Linked DNA regions of Homo sapiens. The protein of the gene in region 1 interacts with the protein of each later gene in a biochemical or structural test. Each region holds a gene or a part of one and is shown in the gene's direction. Other genes may lie near its edges.

Region 1 (3,500 bases):
GGTAGAAAGGACAAGACCTAAGAACCCTAGACATTTGTCGCCATTGCCTCCTTGCTCCCACCCTCAGGTGCTGGGCTTCAACACCCGTCAGCGGAAGGCTTTCCTCAATGCTGTGATGCGCTGGGGGATGCCACCACAGGATGCCTTCACCACACAGTGGCTGGTGCGGGACCTGAGGGGCAAGACTGAGAAGGAGTTTAAGTGAGTGTGGGTGATACAGGGCTGAGTTGGACGCAAGGGGAAGAGCTTTGGGTGTTCCTTTCTTCCTTGGGGCCGCCATATGATGTGACCTTACTCAACTGATTATCACCCTCCCTGTCATACAATACTTCCTGGCTCGATTTCCTGGGGGGTGGTCTCAGCCCACTCCACCTCCCCTCAGCCGAGCCTAGAGTAGAGGGGCCAGGCATCCTCCCCAGGGGAGGGGCGTTGAAGCAAGGAGCCTCTCCTGGGCTGTCCTAGCCTCACATTTACTTGACCACAATAACCTGGCAGGAGGAGCTGGTGGAAAGGATGAAGAGCTGACTGATGGGGCCCAGGAATTAAGTACCAAGGCCAAAGGGAAAGACCCAGGGGTGGGGCGCAGGGGGACAGTTAGGACTTGGAGGGCTGGTAATGGTGAGAGTGAGAGGCCCAGGGGAGGAGCCCTGGAGCACCTGGGGATTTGGGGGTTTGGGGGTCCTCAGTCATCCTCGCGCCTCCCTCACTGCCCTATACCCCTTCTGTGGCTCCCCTAACCCTCCTCCCACTCCCATGCTCCTTAGGGCCTATGTGTCTTTGTTCATGCGCCATCTGTGTGAGCCTGGGGCAGACGGCTCTGAAACCTTTGCCGATGGGGTCCCTCGGGAGGGACTGAGTCGCCAGCAGGTGTTGACCCGCATTGGAGTCATGTCTCTCGTCAAAAAGAAGGTATCAGTCTTCCTGTCACCCAAAGAATCAAGCTGGCTGCCTAGTCTCTGTCCTTCCTCTGCCTCTGTCCCTGAGTTGTAAGCTTGCGCTGGTGTGAGACGGAGGAGACTGGAGCTTCCTGTCTGTAAGCGCCTGGAGCTGACACCTAACCCTCCCACCCTGCCACCCCAGGTGCAGGAGTTTGAGCACATCAATGGGCGTTGGTCAATGCCGGAACTGATGCCTGACCCCAGCGCCGATTCTAAGCGCTCCTCCAGAGCCTCCTCTCCTACCAAAACGTCTCCCACCACTCCTGAGGCTTCTGCTACCAACAGTCCCTGCACCTCTAAACCTGGTAATCAGAAGTCAGGATGGTGGGAGAGACAGAAAGGGAGCCAGGAGTCAGGGCGGGAGAATCTCTGTCTTTATCACTGTGCCTTCCCCTGCAGCTACTCCAGCTCCAAGTGAGAAAGGAGAAGGCATAAGGACACCTCTTGAGAAGGAGGAAGCTGAAAACCAGGAGGAAAAGCCAGAGAAGAACAGCAGAATTGGGGAGAAGATGGAGACAGAGGTGTGTGGCTCCCTGGATTCCCCTGTGGAGCGGGAGGGGAGGGGGCTTGGAGGCCAGGTACCTGGGAGCCCTCTGGCTCATCCTGACCCCATTGTCCTCTTCCAGGCTGATGCCCCCAGCCCAGCCCCATCACTTGGGGAGCGGCTGGAGCCAAGGAAGATTCCTCTAGAGGATGAGGTGCCAGGGGTGCCTGGAGAGATGGAGCCTGAACCTGGGTACCGTGGGGACAGAGAGAAGTCAGGTGGGTGCATGGCCTTAGGAGTGATGGGGGATTAGAATTTGGGATTTCCCTCTTCTGGGGTCAGGGGATGAGGGTAACATCCTCCCTTCCTATCCCCTACCCCCTCCCACAGCCACAGAGTCGACGCCAGGAGAAAGGGGGGAGGAGAAGCCGTTGGATGGACAGGAACACAGGGAGAGGCCGGAGGGGGAAACAGGGGATTTGGGCAAGAGAGGTAATGGGTGGAAGGGACCGGACACCTGGGTCCCAGAGGGCATCAGGGGAGGTGGAGTCTGGGGAACCGAATGCTTGGGTCCTGGGCGGGTAGCTGTTTGAAAGGCCAGTACAGTACAGTACAGATAGTAGTCTTGGGACCTGGGAGGAGGGTGTCCTGAGGTGTGAGCTTTGACCTGTCTGTCCTAGCAGAAGATGTAAAAGGTGACCGGGAGCTTCGACCAGGGCCTCGAGATGAGCCACGGTCCAATGGGCGACGAGAGGAAAAGACAGAGAAGCCCCGGTTCATGTTCAATATCGCCGATGGTGGCTTCACAGGTTGGGGAGACTCTCGCTGCTTTCTGCTCCTCAAGGGGATCTGCTCATCCTCATGGGGTTTCTCGTTTTGCCTGAGGCTTCCTGCTACCTTTAATTCCAAGTAACTTCCAATGAAGTATGTTGCATGCTGACTCCGATCCTTGCTCTAAATCTTTCTTAAGTATCCCTCTTAACTCCAAAGCTGGCCCTAATCCCACCTTTATTCTTAATTCTAACGAACCTGGTTAGAACTGAGTTTGTTCCAAACCTAACCTTTACCCATTCCTCTTCAGGAGCCCTTAGTTCCCTTTCATTATTCAGTTTCTCCATCTCTACCTGTCTGTTGGACTGAGTGCAGTCTGCAAAACCCTGTTACCTCTTCTGTCTGCTGCCTTCTTTGCAGAGCTTCACACACTGTGGCAGAATGAGGAACGGGCAGCTATTTCCTCGGGGAAACTCAATGAGATCTGGCACAGAAGACATGACTATTGGCTTCTGGCTGGGATTGTCCTGTATCCTTTGATACACATGCAAGAAGGAAAAGGTTCTCTCAAGCTGGCAAAAAAAAAAAAGATGATTTCACACCCAGGGACAGGGCTAGTGCCACACTTTGGGGAGTCAAGCCAAAAGGAAGAAGTGTTCAAAGCCAAGCCCATTCCTGTTAAATTCCTTGATGGTTCCTTTTCCTTCATTGGTAGCCATGGCTATGCACGGTGGCAGGACATCCAGAATGATGCTCAATTTGCCATTATCAACGAGCCATTTAAAACTGAAGCCAATAAGGGGAACTTTCTGGAGATGAAAAATAAGTTCCTGGCCCGGAGGTTCAAGGTGGGAATGAGGGAGGAAAGGAGCGGGTTATAGACGGGCTTGGGTCAGAAGTGAGACCAGATCTAGTTGGAACCTAGGGAAGGTTAACACCTTCAGGGCTGAGGTGATACCTGGGGCCAAGACCAAAGTGTAACCTTGTGCTTGGGAGTGTGATCTGGGTCAGGGTTGCTGCTAGGTTCGCAGTCGGTTTGGAGCTGGGAGTGCCCTGGGCCAGCAGTGAGGGCAGGGTGGGTCTCTTGCTATGTCCGCCCCCCCAGCCCCTCACCCACTGCTGGCAGAGCCCTACCTTCACCTCCCAACTCTGTGCCCTCAGCTCCTGGAGCAGGCGCTGGTGATTGAGGAGCAGCTGCGGCGGGCGGCCTACCTGAACCTGTCGCAGGAGCCGGCGCACCCCGCCATGGCCCTCCACGCCCGCTTCGCCGAGGCCGAGTGCCTGGCCGAGAGCCACCAGCACCTCTC
Region 2 (3,500 bases), on another chromosome or scaffold:
TTCCATATTCCTTACTTGTCTCTAATTAGCAAACACTGAATTCCTGGTCTCTACCAAGTTGCTTAGTTACATAGGAAACTAGGGTACCCTCATCCTTGAATAATCTTTCTCTAAAAGATTACAAGGTTAATTTTCTCAATTAAAATCATAAATTTAAAATACTTTTATGTAATATCAGCTCTCTACCAGGTATAAAACTTGAAAACCTTTTCACAGGGAGAATGAAGTTGAAGAGGTAAAAGAGGAGGGTCCAAAAGAGATGACTTTGGATGAGTGGAAGGCTATTCAAAATAAGGACCGGGCAAAAGTAGAATTTAATATCCGAAAACCAAATGAAGGTGCTGATGGGCAGTGGAAGAAGGGATTTGTTCTTCATAAATCAAAGAGTGAAGAGGTAAAATTAAGTTTTGTCGTGTTTGAAAATGTTCAGATGTGACTTGAATTGTATTTATAATTTTTGTTTTAAAATTTCACATGGGTTATTTGTCTGTTAAAGCTTTACATAGGATCATTTGGGGCAGATAATTTGCTTTATAAGGAAAATAAACTGTATTATCACATATTCTAAGAAATTTAGTCCTTTGATCAATTTGTAATTATGTTTTATGTGGTAGAGTTACTTTTTCCTAAAAAGCTGTTAGTGGAGTATCTTGTAGTTATTGGTGTTCAGAAATATGATAGTTCTTTTCAAAGTTGTGGTTGTATTTTTGAAATCTTGCCAAACTGGGGATCATTAAAGGGCTGTGGTATTATGGTGTTAGGTTGAAATCTTGACATTTTCATATGGTTTAACCTAAAATGTAAGTGACTTCATTTAGAATTCAACTTTTGAAACTGTCTGCCTATACCATATATAATGGCCAGGACACTCAGTAAATGGCAATGTGCATTTTGTCTAAGGAATGACGACTTTAAAAACCAAAGTATATGTGGGTTTTACTTAAGAAACATGGAAACTAGTGAAAATACAGTTGACTTGTTGAACAACATGAGGATGCTAGGGGCACTGACCCCGCAGATCAATGCACATGTAACCTTTGACTCTCCCAAAACTTAACTACTAATAACCTGTTGACTGAAAGTCTTAGTGATAACATAACCAGTTAACACATTTTGTATGTTGCGTATTATATACTGTGTTTTTACAGTAAAGTAAGCTAAAGAAAATGTTGAGAAAATATATTTACTGTTCATTAAGTGGAACTGGATCATCACAAAGGTCTTTATTTTGGATAGGAAGAAAAGGGATTGGGCTTGCTTGTCTCAAGACTGACAGAGGCAGAATGTTCAAAGCCACGTTGTTCAAGGGTCAACTGTATTGGAGAAAGTCACATTGATGGCTTTTGATTTGGTAGCTTCCGTTTAAGCTTTGGGGTGTGTTCTTAGAGGAATGTTTCAGTGCGGCTTCCTGTTTGGCTTTAAAAACTCATACAAGCCCTAACTATATTATTTCTTCTCCTAAATTCATTTTCTCTATCAGCTTCCTTTAACCTTTTGACATTTGTGTTTGATTTATTCATATCATAAATTGGGCTGTGCCAGAAATCCAGACTGAGTTTTATCATCCTAAGGTAAAGTTAAATTAAAATATTGTGAGGGCAAACCCTTTCAATAAGGTATTAGTTATTTTTATTTTTTTTTTTTGAGACAGAATCTGGCTCTGTCGCCCAGGCTGGAATGCAGTGGCACCATCTCTGCTTACCGCAACCTCCACCTCCCGGATTCAAACAGTTCTTGTGTCTCAACCTCCTCAGTAGCTGGGATTACGGACACTCGCCACCATGCCCGGATAATGTTTGTGTTTTTAGTAGAGATGAGGTTTCATCATGTTGGCCAGGCTGGTCTCAAACTCCTGGCCTCAGTGATCCCCGCCTGCCTCAGCCTCCCAAAGTGCTGGGATTATAGGCGTGTGCCACCATGCCCAGCCAATAAGCATAATTTTTTAAACTGCAAAATGGCTATAAGACAAACTTGGAAACATTTTAAAATAAAATGGAGGTTAAAAAGATTAAAAGTTTTTTTAGGTTTAGAGATGATTTTTAACATTTACTTCATATGAGTAGTAAATGAGGACATTGTCTTTTTTAAGTCCTGTAGAAAAAAAACTGCATTAGAACACGTGGTTTCAGCCAGGCGCAGTGGCTCACACCTGTAATCCCAGCACTTTTGGGAGACTGAGGCGGGCGGATCACCTGAGGTCGGGAGTTCAAGACCAGTCTGACCAACATGGAGAAACCCCGTCTCTACTAAAGATACAAAATTAGCCTGGTGTGGTGGTGCATGCCTGTAATCCCAGCTACTCAGGAGGCTGAGGCAGGAGAATCACTTTAACACAGGAGGCAGAGGTTGCAGTGAGCTGAGATCACACCACTGCACTCCAGCCTGGGCAACAGAGCAAGACTGTCTCAAAAAAAAAAAAAAAAAAAAAAAACAACACTTTAACTTTCACATGTCTTCATTCTCGTGACAAATGTGAGGTAGTTAAGGGGAAGGAAGAAACTATTTACAAATGGAGAACTGTGTTACCGTGTTATTGACAGAGCTCAGAGTTTCTGTTTTCTGCTCCTCATTGTCTGAGTGCTCTAGAAAAAAGGTCGGACACAGTGGCTTACACCTGTAATCCCAGCACTTCGGGAGGCTGAGGTGGGCAGATTGTTGAGTTAAAAGTTTGAGACCAGCCTGGGTAACATGGCAAAACCCTGTTTCTACAAAAAATATAAAAATTATCTGGATGTGGTTGCGTGCACCTGTGGTCTCAGTTACCTGGGAGGCTGAGGCGGGAGAGGATCACTTGAGCCCAGGAGGCAGAGGTTGCAGTGAGCCAAGATAGCATCACTGCATTCCAACCTAGTTGACAGAGCAAGACTGTTTCAAAAAAAGGAAAAAAGAAAAAAAAAAAGGATCCCCCTGCCCTGACTTTATCCCAGTACAGTTTCTTGGTATCTGCAGGGGATTCGTTCCAGGACCCAGAGATATTAAAATTTTCAGATGCTCATGTCCATTATATAAAATGGCATAGTATCTGCATATAGCCTAAACACGTTTTCCCTATACTTTATTTTTTATTGTTTCTATTTTTTAATTTAAAATATAGAACAATTTACAGTTTTGCGTGTCATCCTTGTGGGGATCATGCTAATAATCTTTGTATTGTTCCACTTTTAGTATATATGCTGCCAAAGTGAGCACTCCCTCATACACTTTATTTTGAGACAAGGTCTTGCTCTGTCATGTAGGCTGGAATGCAGTAGCATGGTCACAGCTTACTGCAGCCTCAACCTCCCCGTGCTCAAGCGATCCTTCTAGCTCAGCCTCCTGAGTAGCTGGAACTACACACCTGTGCCAACTCCTGGACTCAAGCAGCCCTTCTGCCTATGCCTCCCAGAGTGCTGGGATTACAAGTGTCAGCCACCACACCTGGCCTACTTTTTATTGTTATATGGTTGGTTGGTTTTATTTTTTTCTGAATATTTTCGATCTGTGGTTTGCAATAAATTGAA
Region 3 (3,500 bases), on another chromosome or scaffold:
AATAACCATTTAAGCACTAACGTTAAATTTTAAATAATTCCTACTCAGCAATTTCAAGAAAATAATTTTATTAATACAGCTGTCTGCCTTATGTGTTAAAGCTAACAGCAGTATACTATGTACATATATAAACCAATATTATATTGAGTTGGTGAGAAATGTAGTATCTGTCTGTATTTACATAATAGATACTACACATCTATTATGTGGTAGTAAGTCTCATGAGTGGTATTTTATCCTTCAGAATATTATCCTTCCCAAGGGAAAGCTGTCCCCATGAATCTTGGGTAAATTTTACTAAATCCTTGAGGTTAACAATTCACATTTTATTTCATCTCTCTAAGAGCACATAACCTGTTACACATAGATGTTCTTAAATATTACCTATATAACAATGGTATCTTCATCAAAATGCTAACCTGTTATTTTCTATTCATACAGGACTCTCCAGAATCCGATGCTGAGCGAGAGAAGGATAAAAAAGAAAAAGATCGGGAAAGTGAAAAAGACAGAACTAGACAAAGATCAGAATCAAAACACAAATCGCCTAAGAAAAAGACTGGAAAGGATTCTGTAAGTATTTAGAATTGTTTCATGCCTGTATTTTCAAAATGCAAAAATGTATTCTGTGGTTAAACCATGATGGTGTTGAAAGAATAGGCTTTTTTCCAGGTGTGCTACCATTGAAGAAAACAGTGAAAATTCAGTTAAGTACATTTCACACAATATCATAGTTTTTGGTCATGCATGATCCTAGATTTTATTCTCCTAAATTTGATATTTTTTAAATATAGCATTTCATAACTATAGCCTTATTAACTCACTAAGAAAGGATATGGTCACTAAGAAGTGCCACTGGACATTTTTTACCTAATTTTCAAATTTTTTTTTTAAGTGAGAGACTAAATCTGGGATTCTACAGATGTCTACAGTTGTCACTGTTATTAAATCCTTTGTTTCAAAAGGTAGCAATTCCAGTAACTTTTAGAAATACTGATTTGGGGTGGAGGAAGGGCAAATAAATAGGAGAGGAGAATATAAGCCAAAGTTAGTATTTCAATAACAGATTACATAATTAGTCCTTTTCAAATATATGTATATATGAATGACAGAGCCTAATAATGCAAATGCTGTGGGTTTAGCAAGGGTAAATGCCTATGAATCATCACTGGAGAGCATAAACTATGTAGGTAAAACCCTATTAGGGATCTCTGGATATTCTGATTCGTTGGTATAGGGTGGGTTTTTTTTTAGAGCTGAAACAGGTGAGTCTGAGTCACATCGTAAGTGAAGAGTGAATGTTTCCTTTGTACTTTCTAGCAGCTTATGGTGGGTTAAATGAAATCCCTGGAGTGAATGAAAGAGGACGATATGGGAACTATCCACTTTTCAAAGGTTGTGTCTTACGGTGCAGTATTATTTTTGTTTGTTCAGCCTAAATCTTGTCCTGCTCATTAGTCTTGTGTATTTATTTGGCACAGGAATCCATATGCTTAAAGCATACTACTTCTGTTTCTGTGATAATACTTGTGGAACCAGGGGGAAGCTACAAAATTAGCAAGGAATAGGCCAGGTGCAGTGGCTCACACCTGTGATCCTAGCCCTTTGGGAGGCCGAGGTGGGCAGATCACGAGGTCAGGAGTCGAGACCAGCCTGGCCAACATGGCAAAACCCCATCTCTACTAAAAATACAAAAATGAGCCGGGCTTGGTGGCAGGCACCTGTAATCCCAGCTACTCAGGAGGCTGAGGCAGGAGAATTGCTTGAACCCAGGAGGCAGAGGTTGCAGAGAGCCGAGATCGTGCCACTGCACTCCAGCCTGGGTGACAAGAACAAGACTCTGTCTCAACAAAAAAATTAGCAAGGAATGTATTATCTAGGAAATGAATACCTGGCTTCCATTAAATGGAAATATTGCTTCATATTCACACAGTCTTTAAACCCTGTGAAATGTGTTTCTTTGGAAGAGAGTTTATATAGATATTGGATTCTTTTTTCAAAGGCTCAGCCCGTAAACCTCTGAGTACTGATGTCAACTATAATTGTAATCAATGTCTTTTCAGGGTAATTGGGATACTTCTGGCAGCGAACTGAGTGAAGGGGAATTGGAAAAGCGCAGAAGAACCCTTTTGGAGCAACTGGATGATGATCAATAAATTATACCAAATATATGTTTACAGTATGATTTAAAGTCTGATTCAGACCAGGGACTCTATTTTAAGTTCAACTGAAATAACACTGGGTTTTAATTATATCACAGGAAAAAAAAAGTGCATTTAAGTATTGTTATCGTGGACTTTATAAAAGCAAAGGAAATTGAAAGTAACTTTTGATTCTGTATCAAGAATCATATTTTCATACAGTCATAACTGTCTTTCTGTGACCCTTTCACAGGGCACTGTAGGATGGATTAAAGGTGGCAATTTACTGATAACTGCAGATGTCTCTACTTTGTTCTAAAATCTAAGTCATGAGGTGATTTGATTTACTTTATAGAAGCTGGATTTTGAAGATCTAATGAAAAATTTTTTGATAATATAGTAGTACAAAAAAAGCACCAGCAACTGATAAAAATTGCTTTTTTGTGCGCTACCCAACTGGTTAAAGCCAATGTGATCTTTTATGGTGAAACTCCTAAGAAACAGGTGGTTTTGCTGGAAACTTGGTAGACCCTTAATTATAGTGGTGCTAATGAGCACTACTGTAATATAAAGCCACCATTATTTTTTATCAAACATCTGAATACATTTTACAAAGGCTATTGTGAGGGCATTATTTTGAGCATCTATTTTGAGGTGATGTTTAAAAAAACTTTAACATCAAATCAAATTGTAAATTAATTTAAATATATTGCCTTAAGGACCTACTAAAGAATGTGCCACCAGACTTTAAGTGATAGTTGCAATATCCTTGTCTAAAAAAAAAAAAAAAGTTGACTTAAACATTTTCTTTAACAGTTGTCTTTTTTTTCTAAATTCAGTCTTTCTCTTGCTTTTTTTTCCCTGCTATTGAGGAAGTATTTTGCCTTCCCTACTCACTGAGAAGTATTGACTTCGTGGTACACATTCTAAAGCATTTCTGATTTGAATATTTTTGTACATTTTTATCAATTATTAAACCTTCTCTTCTAGTGTGTACTAGTATTTATTTCTACTTAAACTGCTCAGCTCTAAAGAAATTGTATGATCACTTTAAAGGTACTAAATCCCTGAAATTTTGCTTCATCTTACCCACACCGCTAGTTTACTTTCCTTTTTTAATATTTAAGAATATTATAAATCAGTGCATTTGAGGTCCCTAGATTTGTTTTTCACCTATGAATTTTTTACAGACTATTTTAGAGAGGCTGTGGTTTGAAGACAGAATACTCTTTACATGCTAACTTTTGAAGGTTGGTAATGTAATTTATACTATTTTCCTTCAGTGCAGGAGATTTTTTAAGTAAATAAGTAAATTTTAGCACCTATTCTTCGGTATTATCTGTGTTATTCTTTTAATGT
Region 4 (3,500 bases), on another chromosome or scaffold:
AGAATGGCGTGAACCCGGGAGGCGGTGCTTGCAGTGAGCCGAGATGGCGCCGCTGTACTCCAGCCTGGGCAACAGAGCAAGACTCCATCTCAAAAAAAAAAAAAAAAAAAAAATATATATATATATATATATATATATATATATATATATATATCCATTAACTTGAATAAATGTCATAGCTATACAACTAATGTGGAGAGTAATTTGTACCAAGAAAAATTGAAGCCACTATAGTAAATATTGCACATAGTGAGAGGAGATCTTTTAAATGTATATAAAAAAAGATAGACTTTTTTTGAAGATTAAAGATGTGACAAAGTTCTCCACAATGTATTTACCAAGTATTAGATGGCTTCAAACATAGACTTTGCTTAAGATGTTTAAAGCATTAAAACTAAAGGGGAGTAAAGCAAGGTGACAGGACAGAGGAAAAGACCAGAGTCTCGGCCGGGCACGGTGGCTCACGCCTGTAATCCTGGCACTTTGGGAGGCTGAGGAGACCAGCCTGACCAGGTTAGAGAAACGTCGTCTCTACTGAAAATACAACATTAGCCAGGCGTGGTGGCGCAGGCCTGTGATCCCAGCTAATCTCTACCCGGGAGGCGGAGGTTGCAGTGAGCCGAGATCGGGCCATTGCACTCCAGCCTGGGCAACAAGAGTGAAACTCAGTCTCAAAAAAAAAACACAAGAACAAAACCAGAGTCTGTGGTCCCAGCACAGTGTCCAAGTGCTGGACTGAGTGGACAAAAAGAGATGCCCTCAAGTACTGGCTGACTCTTGGGCAAGTTGCCAAATAGCAGTGTTTGGTTCATATTCAGGAAGTTATAACTGCAAGTCTATATATCTCATAGAATAGCAGGAAAATCTGTTTTCAAAGTAAAAATATAAGCACTACAAACTTTAAAAACAAAAACCTTGGCCAGGCGCTGAGGCTCATGCCTGTAATCCCAGTGCTTCAGGAGGGTGAGGTGGGTGAATTGCTTGAAGCTGGGAGTTCGAGACCAGCCTGGCCAACATGGTGAAACCCTGTCTCTATTAAAAATACAAAAATTAGCTGGGCATGGTGGCACATGCCTGTAATTCCAGCATCTTGGGAGGCTGAGGCATGAGAATTGCTTGAGCCTGGGAGGCGGAGATTGCAGTGAGCCAAGATTAAACAGTGCACTGCACTTCGGGCTGGGTGACAGAGCAAGACTCTGTCTCAAAATAAGTAATTAAGTAAATAAATTAAAAAAATACAAAATAAAAACAAAAACCTTAGTAGCCAGTGATAAGCCATAGTTGCTATGTAATGTGCAGTTGGGATTCTAAAAGTACAGTCTGAAATATAGGGTATTCTTTCATTTTCTAGGTACGGCTTACACACTGTGTTTTTGTAAGACTGCTTTTGTGAACTGTAGCTTATTTAGTAAAATGTACCCATGGCTGTCACAGTTATTGGGAGATGCCTGTAATTATAGGTGAGCTTAGTTGGTCATATACTTTCTAGGATATAGGGAAAGCATGATTTAATAGTAACATCCTATTAAAAAGTAGACTGTGGGCAGTTGTAGTATCAGCAACTTTTTTCTTTGAAGTTTTCTAAACTTCCTGAATTCTCCTATGACGTTGATTTCTAGAAAAATGAAATTTACAAGTACCTGTAAAGTTTAATAGTGTGCTGTTGCAGATGTTGTGTTCCAGCTCTCTGCTTTGATTTTCTGTTGGTAGGCCAGAAGCGGACTCCTAGAAGAGGGGAGCAGCAAGGATGGAATGACAGCCGTGGGCCGGAGGGGATGCTCGAAAGAGCTGAGCGGAGATCCTACAGGGAATACCGACCCTATGAGACAGAGAGGCAGGCAGACTTCACAGCTGAGAAGTTTCCAGATGAAAAGTATGTGCTGCAGTCCTCAGCAGGGCGGGTGGGGAACCAGAAAGGTTTTGAGAAAATGCTACTTTCTTTTTCTTTTCTTTCTTTCTTTTTTTTTTTTTTTTGAGACAGTTTCGCTCTTGTCGCCCAGGCTGGAGTGCAATGGTGCGATCTCGGCTCACTGCAACCTCCGCTCCCGGGTTCAAGCAATTCTCCTGCCTCAGCCTCCCAAGTAGCTGGGATTACAGGCATGTGCCACCACGCCCGGCTAATTTTGTATTTTTAGTAGAGACGGGGTTTCTCCATGTTGGTCAGGCTAGTCTTGAACTCCCAACCTCAGGTGATCCACCTGCCTTGGCCTGCCAAAAGTGCTGGGATTACAGGAGTGAGCCACCATGCCCGGCCCAGAAAATACAACTTTCTACTGGCTACTGCTTTTTGTGGTACCAGTCCTAGGAATGTTTTACTAATTTATGTGCAATTCATGTTACCTTAGATGATGGGAAGGATCTTCCTTTTTCCTCATAGATGCCTTTACGTCTTGGTTCAGGAAATGATTGTACAATTAAAAATGAATTGCTTGTTGGTAACTGAAGAGCACTCTTAAAAAGAAATTACACAGGAGTGTGTTGAACTGGTTTTCTTTTGAAGTTCTAGATTAGAGATATAATTTTGGACTAGGGATATAATTATGGTTTTTGATTTCACATTACCAATTTAGACTGCTCAATGGATTGAAATAAATTCCTAGCTCCACGGTCAGGTCAGTAGGCTGCCATGATGAAATTTGAAGAAGAGTCTGTTATGATGTGTAATACCAATTTCTGGAGGGCATGGCTGCTCTCCGAAGTACTCTAACATGGACAGAAGTCGTGGGCTGGTGGAGTGTTGCGTCGCTGCTTAGTGATGTGGCAGCATGGTGGCCACCGCACTCCACCTCAACACGGGGAGGGGTTGTGTCTTATGTTTGGCACTTGCTGCTTAAAGTCTTTGTTTAATCATTAAACCTGTTTATGTTAAACAGAAACAAGTAGTGAATCACATTTCAAGGAAAATAAAGTTAAACAAGCTAAGGAAGACTAGAATAGTGAACAGTTATATGTCAAGGGAGCCATTTTTCCAAACTCTTTCTGCTTCTTGACTGCTAATTCCATTCCATTTAGGATTCTGGCTACAAGTTTTAACCAAAAAATGTGGCTTTGTAAAACTATACTATAGAGCCTATTAAAAACAAAACAAAACAAAAGTCCAGCAGAGAGTAACTTAGCCTGGGTGGGCTGAGCAGGTGATGACTCATGCAGAACTGTTCACCTGGAAGTTACACATTCAAGACATTGAGATAGTCTATCTGCAACCATGTTGGAGGGAGAAACTTACAGAAAGCCTTAATTTTGCACCTTTTTTGGTGATTACTTCAAATCTGCTGTGTAGTAAGCACAGTCTCCTTGTTTCTGCAAAGCTTCTTGTAGCAGAGCTGCTTATTTTTGGAAGCATTTGGGTATTTATTTTCCCCTCACTTTAGGGATTCTGTGGAAATGAGGAAATTATAGTTCACTTGCACAAACCCATGTTTCCCCCCTTTTTTAGTAGCAAGACTGTGTAGTCTTTAAAAAGGATAAAATAGATCTTTATATGTGACATGAAAAAATAG
Region 5 (3,337 bases), about 22 Mb from region 1:
TTTCCATGTATGAACCTGGCTCTGCCCTGAAGCCCTTTGGGGGCCCCCCTGGGGACGAGCTCACTACGCGGCTGCAGCCTTTCCACAGCACTGTGAGTCACCTATGGGTCTCAAGGTGTGGGGAGATGGGTGGGGCTGCCGCAGGGTCCACCATGACGCTCGCTGTGCTAACATCCCCAGGAGCTAGAGGACGACGCCATCTATTCAGTGCACGTCCCTGCTGGCCTTTACCGGGTAAGCCTGGGGAAGGCGTGTCCATCTTAGCCAGTAGGTTCTGAGCCCCAGGGGGTTCTGGGCTCTGTGCTGAATTCGGGGCTTAAGATGATTAGACTGACCTGGTCCCTGCTGCACTGCTGGTGAGCAGGGGGGCAGTGGGGCACACTGACTCCATCCAGCGCTGCCCTGGGTTTCAGATCCGGAAAGGGGTGTCTGCCTCAGCTGTGCCCTTCACTCCCTCCTCCCCGCTGCTGTCCTGCTCCCAGGAGGGAAGCCGCCACACGGTAATGTTTCCATGCCCAGTGCCCACAGGGTGGCTGGGGGCCGTGTGGGCTAGGGGCAGTGTGGGTCCAGGAACACGGCGCTCACAGCCCCTTCCCTCCGCCCTCCAGAGCAAGCTTTCCCGCCACGGCAGTGGAGCCGACAGTGACTATGAGAACACGCAAAGTGGGGACCCACTGCTGGGGTGAGGCTCCCTGGGTCTCCAGTCCAGCCTGCTCACATGCCGAGGCGGGGAGGTTGAGAGGGCCCCCAGTGTGTGAGGACCAAGGCGGGCGGCTCCGAGGCTGGAACGTGTCTTTCTCTATATGTATCTTTGTCTCTGTTTTCTGGACCTGGGCCTCAGGCTGGAAGGGAAGAGGTTTCTAGAGCTGGGCAAAGAGGAAGACTTCCACCCAGAGCTGGAAAGCCTGGATGGAGACCTAGATCCTGGGCTTCCCAGCACAGAGGATGTCATCTTGAAGACAGAGCAGGTCACCAAGAACATTCAGGAACTGTTGCGGGCAGCCCAGGAGTTCAAGCATGACAGGTACTGAGTGGAGGGGGAGGTGAGGGGGATGCAGTTCCTGTTGGCTTCTAGGGTGTTGCAGAGAGCATGAGGGGCCCTGGGTTCTGCTGTCCCTGGGAACCTCCCTTGAGAGCCCCCTGCTTTATAGCCTCCCTTCTCCCCGCAGCTTCGTGCCCTGCTCAGAGAAGATCCATTTGGCTGTGACCGAGATGGCCTCCCTCTTCCCAAAGGTACAGGGGCCAAAGAGAGGACCAGGAGTGGGAGGGCCTCGAGCTGGGGCAGGCGTGGAGAATCCCATCTGATCGCTACCTGGGTGGAGACACAGACAAACTGGGCCCTGATCTCAGCTGGTGGCTTAAAGTCCAAGGTCCAGCCTCACTCCTGCCCCCTCCAGAGGCCAGCCCTGGAGCCAGTGCGGAGCTCACTGCGGCTGCTCAACGCCAGCGCCTACCGGCTGCAGAGTGAGTGCCGGAAGACAGTGCCCCCAGAGCCCGGCGCCCCAGTGGACTTCCAGCTGCTGACTCAGCAGGTGATCCAGTGCGCCTATGACATCGCCAAGGCTGCCAAGCAGCTGGTCACCATCACCACCCGAGAGAAGAAGCAGTGACCTCTCTCCCCACACCCTCACCTGCACCCTAGGACCTCACTGGCCATAGGAGCTGGGCCACTCCAGACATTAATCCCCACCCCAACAGAGCCACTGGCACAAGTGCCCTTAGTGCTGCCACACTCCCTGGCAGCCAGGTGCCCTGGTGCCCACCCCTGTCGAGCCCCTAAGGATGGGGAGGTGGGGGGGCAGGAGCTTCTGTCCCCCACATTCCATGCACCTCCCCTCTGTATATAGCATCTCCCCCCTCCTAGTGAGCAGGGGCCTGCAAGGCATCACTCCCAGCCCCTCGCCTTCTAGGGCACCCTCAGCAAAGGGGCAGGTGGGGACACTCCAAGTGGGGCAGCTCTCCGTACATGCGCCCCACCCCCATGAGCCAGTTCAGCCCTACTGGGGGCTGAGCGGGGGCATCCCCTCCTTTGTACATAGTCTCCATGGATGTCCCTGCCCTGTAGCCACCAGCCCCTTGCTGCTCTCCCTTTAATGCCATATGGCCCCTGCCTAGGGCACAGGCCCCAACCTGTGTGCTGGGGTCCCCAGCAGCAAACACTGGAAAGTCTGTTTTTTTTTTTTCTTTCTTCTTCCCCACCCCTTAATTTTAACTTTGTGGTAACTGAGTGCCCCCGCGTGCCTGCGTGTTGAGTGTGTGGGCGGCAGTGCCGTTCCGGAGGCCTGGTCCATCTGGAGTTTTGAGGGGTGAGGGGACCAGAGCAGTGGGACCAGCATGGGGATCAGCTTCCCTTCCCCACCTGGAGCCAGGGACTGTCCGGGTAGCCAGTTTTGGTCCTGCCAGCTGCCTCCCTGATCCCTCCCCACTCTCGCCCCTTCTCTATGAACTTAAATCAAAAACCACTTCCCTCCATCTCCTCCTGCTCCTGCGTGGAGGGGGAATGTGTGCTGGCTAGGGTGGAGGACTGAGCACCTGAGCCTGGGGCTGGCTCCCCGGGGTCCCCGACTCAGCTGGTGGCTGTGGAGCTGAGTCCCCTCCCCGTAACCTCTGCAAGGCCAGCACCCACCATCACTACCTGCACCTGCTGTGGTCCCACCCTCTGGAGGCCTGGGAACCTGGCTGCAGCCTGGGAAGGCTGGAGAGGCAGACGGTGGGACCCACCAGCTCTCTCCCCATCCCGCTTCTTCCCTGGGGGCCAGGCCCTACCTGTGTGGTGGTGGGTGGGCTGTCAAGACGTGTCATGTACATTTGTATCAAAAATAAAGAAGTGACCATGAGCTGTTTCTGATGCTTAGAGAATGGGGGCTGGAGGGAGGTGGCAGACATGAAGGGTGACTGCAAGTGCCCCAGGACCCCCGCCCTAGGGAAGCCCCTGTGCTGGGAACGTCTGTCTAGTGGAAGAGTTAGTTTGCGAATAACAAAGCTAACATGTATGACGATAACGCCACCCTCCCACGAGCACATTCCTAAAGCCCCATGTCCAGGGACAGGTTGGCCAGCGGGGGCGGGCTGCCTCAAACACCACCTCCATGGCCTAGGACGAGGGTCCGGGTGGGAGTCTCTGTGCGGCAGATGCACAAGCTCAACTCCAGAGTCTACTAAAAATAATTTAATTAGAAACGGAGTTTTGGCAAGGGAGGCAGAAGCGGCTCCTTTTCTCCCCTTGGCCGCCCACTCAGCAACCAACAAGGAGGAAAGCCCCCGCAGTGCTCGGCCAGTGCCGCGCCATCGCCACCAGGGAGCGCCCCGCGCGCGGTCCACGTGGCAGAGGTCGCGG
Region 6 (3,500 bases), on another chromosome or scaffold:
CGAGGTCGAGGTTGCAGCAAGCCAAGATCATGCCACTGTACTTCAGCCTGGGCGATAGAGACCCTGACTCAAAACAAAGAAGACCCAGTACAAGTTCAGTGTTGAGTGCTAAAGACTTAAAAGAGTTATAAAGCTGAACCCTTAATCTTAAGAGGTTTATAAGTGAGAACAAGAATCTCCAAATCCTGTACTGTTTAATATCAGCATGAGACTAAACCACTGTCCTAAGAAGACAACCTTAATTTGAATCAAGTTATTTTAGAGTGATGTGTTTTCTGAGGCAGCTCTCAGAAGGTTATTGTCTGGTGTTAAAATAGTGAAATTGAGTAATAACAAGGTTAAAATCGGTGGACATTAAATACACACAAGACTTCAATTGCTGGGTCCTCCATTGATTAATGAAAAAATGATTGTTTTTGGAATTTGAGTGAAACACTTCTTAATGGCTGAGTAGGGTGGCTTACGCCTGTAATCCCACCACTTTGGGATCACTTGAGGCCAGGACTTTGAGACCAGCTTGGCCAACATGAGGAAAGCACGTCTTTACTAAAAATACAAAAATTAGCTGGGCCTGGTGGCTCATGCCTGTAATCCCAGCTACTTGGGAGTCTGAGGCGAGAGGATCGCTTGAGCTTGGGAGGTGGAGGTTGCAGTGAGCGGAGATCATGCCACTGCATTCCAGCCTGGGCGACAGAGCAAGACTCTGTCCCAAAAAAAAAAAAAAAAAAAAAAGAAAAGGAAAAAAAACAAAAAACTTTTTTTTTTTTTTTTTTTTGAGACGGAGTCACAAAAAATTAGCCACCATGCCCAGCTAATTTTTTTGTATTTTTGGTAGAGACAGGGTTTCACCATATTGGCCAGGCTGTCTCGAACTCCTGACCTTGTGATCCGCCCGCCTCGGCCTCCCAAAGTGCTGGGATTACAGGCGTGAGGTGCCGTGCCTGGCAAAAAAAAAAAAAACACAAAAAAACCCACTTCTTTATAATTTTAACAATTCCAACATCATCTAGTAGATTTGTGTACCATTATTAAATAATCCTTTAAAATAAGTTCTAAACCTAAGGCCCATAGACCATAAAGACTGAAAGTTCGCTTACATTGTATGGAGTGTTTTGTGAGTATTTGTGCATACGTATTTTTTTTTTTTTAAGATAGAGCATTGCTCAATTGCCCAGGCTGGAGTACAGTGTGGTGTGATCTCGGTTACTGCAACCTCTGCCTCCTGGGTTCAAGTGATTCTCCTGCCTCAGCCTCCCTAGTAGCTGGGATTATAGACACATGACACCATACCTGGCTAATTTTTGTATTTTTTGTAGAGATGGGGTTTCATCAGGCTGGTCTCGAACTCCTGACCTCAGGTGATCTGCCCGTCTTGGCCTCCCAAAGTGCTGGGTTTACAGACGTGAGCCCAGCCATATATATATATTTTTTTTAAATAGGAGAAAGGACCCATAGTCTCATCAGGGGTACGTGATTCCTCAAAATGGTTAAGGACCATCCTTTAACCAGTAACAGAAATCTGATTGGGTGCTTTCCTTTAGCCCAGTCTCACCTTGTAGCAAAACAAAGTGCTCGTACAGAACCCGAAGCTTAATATCAAAAGGATAAGGGTAATTTGTACAAATATTTTCCCCTTCCTCCTTTCTGATATTTGAGTTTATAGTGTTTCTTTTTTATACCAAAATCATTAAAGGTAGCTTGGTCAGCTCTTCAATTCAAGTCTGTTAATTGTAGCAATTGGATGACTGTTCCACTCTAACTGAATCTGTATTAACACCCCCAAAGAGAGATTGAATGATTTCCTTTTATCTTTAGTCAAGGATTTGGAAGCATTGTGTAATTCTGATTATCTGATACATTACCTCAAAATTTTGTGACTTAAAACAACAGCCATTTATTTTGTTTATAAATCTGCAATTTGGACAGGGCTCTGTGGATTAGACTCACCTCTGCTTCTTGGTGTGTGGGGCCTCAGCTGAGATGACTCAAGTGGCTGGGGGCTGGAACAGCTAGTTGTCAGGTGAGATGAGACTGGATGGGGCAAGTGTCTCCATATAGTCTCAGAGCCTTTCTTAGTGGTTTCATCATGTGATGTCAGCATGGAGACCCCAGGGTATTCAGACTTACGGCTCAGGGATCACAGAGAGAATAGGTGTTCCAAGAGAACCTGGGTGGAAATAGCAAGTCTCCTACAACCTAGCCTTGGAAGTCACGTCTGTAATTCTGTTGCCCACTCAAATCACTAAGGTCAGCCAGATTCAAGGGAAAGGCATTTATTTAGACACTGTTTCTCAATGGGAGAGTAACAAAGAATTTGCAGTTATCTTTAATCTACATTAATTGTATTTTTGCTGCCATGATAGTATTATTCCCTGCAGTGTTCTATATAGCTCCCTGCTATTGATTTTTACTGATTTTAGAAATTCTTTGCTTGAGATAGCAGGAGAATATGATGAACTGGTTGTGTATTAAAATTCATAATTGTGTGTACTACTATTTATATCATAGAATAGATATGTTAAACTGTAGTTATTACTTGAGTATGTAGTTAAGCATTTCATGCCCTAGGAGAAGAAGAATACTGTGTCCGCTCTGATAGACATGAGGTCCTGCTAGTGGATGTTACAAATGTATAGATTGTAGCATTATCTAAACAAACTTTACTAGTAGTTTAAAAATTGAATATGAATGTTATGATTACTCATTAAGATTTAGTAGTTCAGATTTAAAAACTATTAAGTAGTTGTCAACTCATGACATCCTTTAGTCCCGAAGGCAGTTAGGGTATCTCTTTCATAATTTTTACATGTAATGTTACAGTTATTTACGTTCCTTTTTTTTTTTTTTTTTTGAGATGGAGTCTTGCTCTGTGGCCCAGGCTGGAGTGCAGTGGCATGATCTCGGCTCACTGCAACCTCTGCCTCCTGGTTCAAGTGATTCTCCTGCCTCAGCGCCTCGAGTAGCTGGGATTACAGATGTGTGTCACCACGCCTGGCTAGTTTTTATATTTTTAGTAGTGATGGGCTTTCCCCATGTTGGCCAGGTTGGTCTTGAACTCCTGACTTCAAGTCATCCACCTGCCTCGGCCTCCCAGAGTGCTGGGATTACAGGTGTGAGCCACCGCGTTGCCAGTTATTTACATTCTAAGTGTCTTTTCTCCATTACATCAGGCTTTATTTATCCTCTTTTTCCTGTAATGCTTAGCACATTGAGTGGATAATTAGTAAAAAATTTTTTAAAGGAGAGTGGCCAGATTCATTCAACAAATGTTTATTAAATGTCACAATGTTCACAGCATGATTCTAGGCCCTAGAATTGGAAGGTCGCCTCAAAAACATGAAACAGCAGGTACCTTCCTCCTCCTCTTTCAGTCCTCTTGATGTTGTTTTGTTATTGAGGCAGGGCTGGTTGCCATGGAATAGTTTTTCTCTTATGATATTTTTGCATACCTTCTTCATCTTTACTTCTGTTAGCAATAGACCTGGTAACTATATCCAAAG
Region 7 (3,500 bases), on another chromosome or scaffold:
GCGATCTCGGCTTACTGCAACCTCCGCCTCCCAGGTTCAAGTGATTCTCCTGCCTCAGCCTCCCAAGTAGCTGGGGCTACAGGTATGCACCACCAGGCCTGGCTAATTTTTTTTTTTAAGTAGAAATGGGGTTTCACCATATTGGACAAGCTGGTCTCAAACTCCTGACCTCAGGTAACCTGCCCACCTCGGCCTCCCAAAGAGCTTGGTATTACAGGCGTGAGCCACTGCACCTGGCCTTAAATGAGTTATTTATGTAAAAATGCCAGAACAGTGCCTGAAACAATGTGTTGTCTATTATTATTATTATTCAATTTAATAAGCTCTGAGTTTTCACTCACAAATGGATCTAAACCTTTCTTCAAGTTCTATTACGACATCTTTTGGGGTATGATTTTTCATGTGTTGACTACTTGTCTAGTAAAGTTCTTTTATTCAGAAGTAATTCCTTAAAATTTCAAGGAATGCCCTGAATGCTAGTGTTTATTCTAGCTGTCCTTCATGACTTTTGCATTTCAGGAACATACTTACTTTTTCATAATGGTATAGTCTTTTTAGTCTATCCTCAAGACGACTTGCTGGAATTTCATTTATTGCTTCCTTTGTTCTGTGTTCCCCACATTGCTCTGTTTTATGTGGTTGATCTATTGATTGAGACAGGGTCTCACTCTGTCACCAGAGTGCGGTGGTGTGATCATGGCTCACTGCATCCTTGCCCGCCCAGGCTCAGGCAATCCTTTCGTCTCAGCCTCCTGAGTAACCGGGACTACAGGTGTGCACCACCATGCCTGGCTAATGTATTTTTTTTTTTTTTGAGACAGAGTCTCGCTCTGTCGCCCAGGCTGGAGTGCAGTGGTGCGATCTCAACTCACTGCAAGCTCCGCCTCTCGGGTTCGAACCATTCTCCTGCCTCAGCCTCCAGAGTAGCTGGGACTACAGGCACCTGCCACCACGCCCGGCTATTTTTTTTTTATTTCATTTTTAGTAGAGACGATGTTTCACCGTATTAGCCAGGATGGTCTCGATCTCCTGACCTCGTGATCCGCCCACCTCGGCCTCCCAAAGTGCTGGGATTACAGGTGTGAGCCACTGTGCCTGGCCTGGCTAATGTATTTTTAAAACAATTTTTGTAGTGGTGAGTTCCTGGCTGGGCGTGATGGCTCATACCTGTAATCTTAGCACTTTGGGAGGCTGAGTTGGGAGGATCGCTTGAGGCCAGGAGTTTGAGACCAGCCTTTGCAATATAGGGAGACCTCGTTCCTACTGAAAATTAAAAAATTAGCCAGGCATGGTAGTGCTTGCCTGTGGTTCCAGCTACTTTGGAGGCTGAGGTGAGAGCATCACTTGGGCCTGGGAGGTTGAGGCTGCAGTGAGCGGTGATTGTGCCATTGCCCTCCAGCCTGGGTGAGAGAGCAATACCCTGTTTGGGGACGGGGGAAGAGACAGAGAGAGAGAAAGTGCTGAGATTATAAGCATGAGCCACCACGCCCAGCCAGCATGGCTGATCTCTCATTGAAGTCCTTTCTAGTGTGTACACGTTGGAGCCCGTAGGAATGAGAAACGTTATCTCTATTTCCCAACTTTCCTACTAGCTTTTCTTCCTTCGCTGAACAGCAGAGGCATGGTTCAATCTGATTACTTCACAGTTACTGAGTATCGAGTATTATTGCAGAAGGTAGATTTCCTATCTGTGGAGGTTCACTGGGTACAGTAAATTTTGCATTGAGAGGCTACAGAAGCAGGCAGGGAGAAGAGCAGAGTGAAAGAGTGGAAGAGCATGGCTTCGCATCCTGGCAGGTTTTGGTGGAACTTCATCACTCACAACTATTGGACTTATCACTCCACCTTTCTGAGTATGTTTTCTCCTCTGTAAAACGAGAGCAATAATAGTTACCCTTAAAGCTGGGTGTGGTGGTGCATGTCTGTAGTTCCAGCTACTCAGGAGACTGAGGCTGGAGGATTGCTTGAGCCCAGGAGTTGGAGTCTGTAGTGCACGATGATCACATATGTGAATAAACCCCTGTACTCCAGCCTGGGCAACAGAGTGCAACCCTATCACTTAAAAAATAAATAAATAAAATAAAAAATAATTACCCTTTTAGTGTTGACTGAAATCACAGATGTGAAGAGCACCTGCTGCATAGTAAGTGCTCAGAGTTAGTTTTCTTCTCCCAGTCTTTACATGTAGTTTTGAGAGTCTGTTGAACTCTTGAATAACAGCAGGTCAGACAAGGTATTTGCCCTCTCAATGTTTTTTTTTTTTGTTTTGTTTTGTTTTTGAGATGGAGTCTCCCTCTGTTGCCCAGGCTGGAGTACAGTGGCTCAATCTCGGCTCACTGCAACCTCAGCCTCCCAGGTTCAAGCGGTTCTCCTGCTTCACCTGCCTCAGCCTCCTGAGTAGCTGAGACTACAGGTGTGTGCCACTACGCCTGGCTAACTTTTTTTTTTTTTTTTTTTTTTTTGAGACGGAGTCTTGCTCTGTCTCCCGATCTGGAGTACAGTGGCACAATCTCGGCTCACTGCAACCTCTGCCTCCTGGGTTCAAGCGATTCTCCTGTCTCAGCCTCCTGAGTAGCTGGGACTACAGGTGCCCGCCACCATGCCCAGCTAATTTTTTTGTATTTTTAGTAGAGATGGGGTTTTGCCATGTTGGCCAGGCTAGTCTTGAATGCTTGACCTCAGGTGATCCACCTGCCTCGGCCTCCCACAGTGTTGGGATTACAGGTGTGAGCCTGGCACCTGGCCTCAACTTTTTATTTTGAAAAATTTCTCACGTATAGAAAAGTTGAAAGGATAATACTGAGAACTTCTGTAAAATTCCCATAAAAACTTAACCAAGATGCACTGTTCACATTTTGCTGAATTTGCTTTATGTCAGTCTCTCTCTCTCTTTCTCTCTCTCTCTCTCTCTATATATATATTTTTTTTTTTGGAAGGATTTGTGGTAAGTTACAGACATCAAGGATATTTCATCCTAGAATATTTCACCTTATCTCTCATAAGAGTAAGGTTATTCCCCTGTATAACCACAATATCATTATCACACAAGAAATTTAAGTGTTGATAAATAGTATTATTTAAAACAGAATCTGCACTCAAATTTTCACACTTAAAAAAAATCAGAATCTAGTGAAGAAACAGAGATTGCATTGATTTGTCTCTTTAGTCTTTTTTTTTTTTCCTTTCCTTCCTTTTTTTTTTTGTTTGAGACAGAGTCTTGCTCTGTTGCCCAGGCTGGAGTGCAGTGGTGCAATCTTGGCTCACTACAACCTCCGCTTCCTGGGTTCAAGCAATTCTCCTGTCTCAGCTTCCCAAGTAGCTGGAATTACAGGTGCCCGCCACCATGCCTGGCTAATTTTTTTGTATTTTTAATAGAGACAGGGTTTTGCCATGTTGGCCGGGATGGTCTCGAACCCCTGACCTCAAGTGATCCACCCACCTCGGCCTCCCACAGTGCTGGGAGCCACCGCGTCCAGCCTTAAACTTTGTTTGTTTGTTTG

The links.
Region 2: the proteins of CHD3 (region 1) and SERBP1 form a complex in vitro, tested with the Homo sapiens proteins (one study listed by BioGRID).
Region 3: the proteins of CHD3 (region 1) and PRPF40A form a complex in vitro, tested with the Homo sapiens proteins (one study listed by BioGRID).
Region 4: the proteins of CHD3 (region 1) and HABP4 form a complex in vitro, tested with the Homo sapiens proteins (one study listed by BioGRID).
Region 5: the proteins of CHD3 (region 1) and GIT1 form a complex in vitro, tested with the Homo sapiens proteins (one study listed by BioGRID).
Region 6: the proteins of CHD3 (region 1) and SUMO1 form a complex in vitro, tested with the Homo sapiens proteins (one study listed by BioGRID and IntAct).
Region 7: the proteins of CHD3 (region 1) and PEX14 interact in a surface display test, tested with the Homo sapiens proteins (one large-scale study listed by IntAct).

What each region holds. Positions count from the first base shown.
Region 1 is NC_000017.11:7,905,789-7,909,288, forward strand, and holds part of CHD3 (chromodomain-helicase-DNA-binding protein 3), read left to right. Parts: intron 1-67; coding exon 68-201; intron 202-334; exon of another isoform or gene 335-472; intron 473-764; coding exon 765-909; intron 910-1,080; coding exon 1,081-1,243; intron 1,244-1,337; coding exon 1,338-1,459; intron 1,460-1,564; coding exon 1,565-1,700; intron 1,701-1,812; coding exon 1,813-1,914; intron 1,915-2,102; coding exon of another isoform or gene 2,103-2,105; coding exon 2,106-2,231; intron 2,232-2,613; coding exon 2,614-2,722; intron 2,723-2,908; coding exon 2,909-3,041; intron 3,042-3,354; coding exon 3,355-3,500.
Region 2 is NC_000001.11:67,416,903-67,420,402, reverse strand, and holds part of SERBP1 (SERPINE1 mRNA-binding protein 1), read left to right. Parts: intron 1-216; coding exon 217-394; intron 395-3,500. UniProt on the Homo sapiens protein: Ribosome-binding protein that promotes ribosome hibernation, a process during which ribosomes are stabilized in an inactive state and preserved from proteasomal degradation.
Region 3 is NC_000002.12:152,654,962-152,658,461, reverse strand, and holds part of PRPF40A (pre-mRNA-processing factor 40 homolog A), read left to right. Parts: intron 1-441; coding exon 442-573; intron 574-1,320; coding exon of another isoform or gene 1,321-1,338; exon of another isoform or gene 1,339-2,063; coding exon 2,064-2,156; 3' UTR 2,157-3,500.
Region 4 is NC_000009.12:96,456,669-96,460,168, forward strand, and holds part of HABP4 (intracellular hyaluronan-binding protein 4), read left to right. Parts: intron 1-1,710; coding exon 1,711-1,873; intron 1,874-3,500. UniProt on the Homo sapiens protein: Ribosome-binding protein that promotes ribosome hibernation, a process during which ribosomes are stabilized in an inactive state and preserved from proteasomal degradation.
Region 5 is NC_000017.11:29,572,975-29,576,311, reverse strand, and holds the end of GIT1 (ARF GTPase-activating protein GIT1), read left to right. Parts: coding exon 1-92; intron 93-180; coding exon 181-234; intron 235-413; coding exon 414-500; intron 501-608; coding exon 609-682; intron 683-841; coding exon 842-1,024; intron 1,025-1,169; coding exon 1,170-1,233; intron 1,234-1,376; coding exon of another isoform or gene 1,377-1,397; coding exon 1,398-1,610; 3' UTR 1,611-2,837; downstream 2,838-3,337. UniProt on the Homo sapiens protein: GTPase-activating protein for ADP ribosylation factor family members, including ARF1.
Region 6 is NC_000002.12:202,232,098-202,235,597, reverse strand, and holds part of SUMO1 (small ubiquitin-related modifier 1 isoform a precursor), read left to right. Parts: intron 1-3,500. UniProt on the Homo sapiens protein: Ubiquitin-like protein that can be covalently attached to proteins as a monomer or a lysine-linked polymer.
Region 7 is NC_000001.11:10,477,950-10,481,449, forward strand, and holds part of PEX14 (peroxisomal membrane protein PEX14), read left to right. Parts: intron 1-3,500. UniProt on the Homo sapiens protein: Component of the PEX13-PEX14 docking complex, a translocon channel that specifically mediates the import of peroxisomal cargo proteins bound to PEX5 receptor.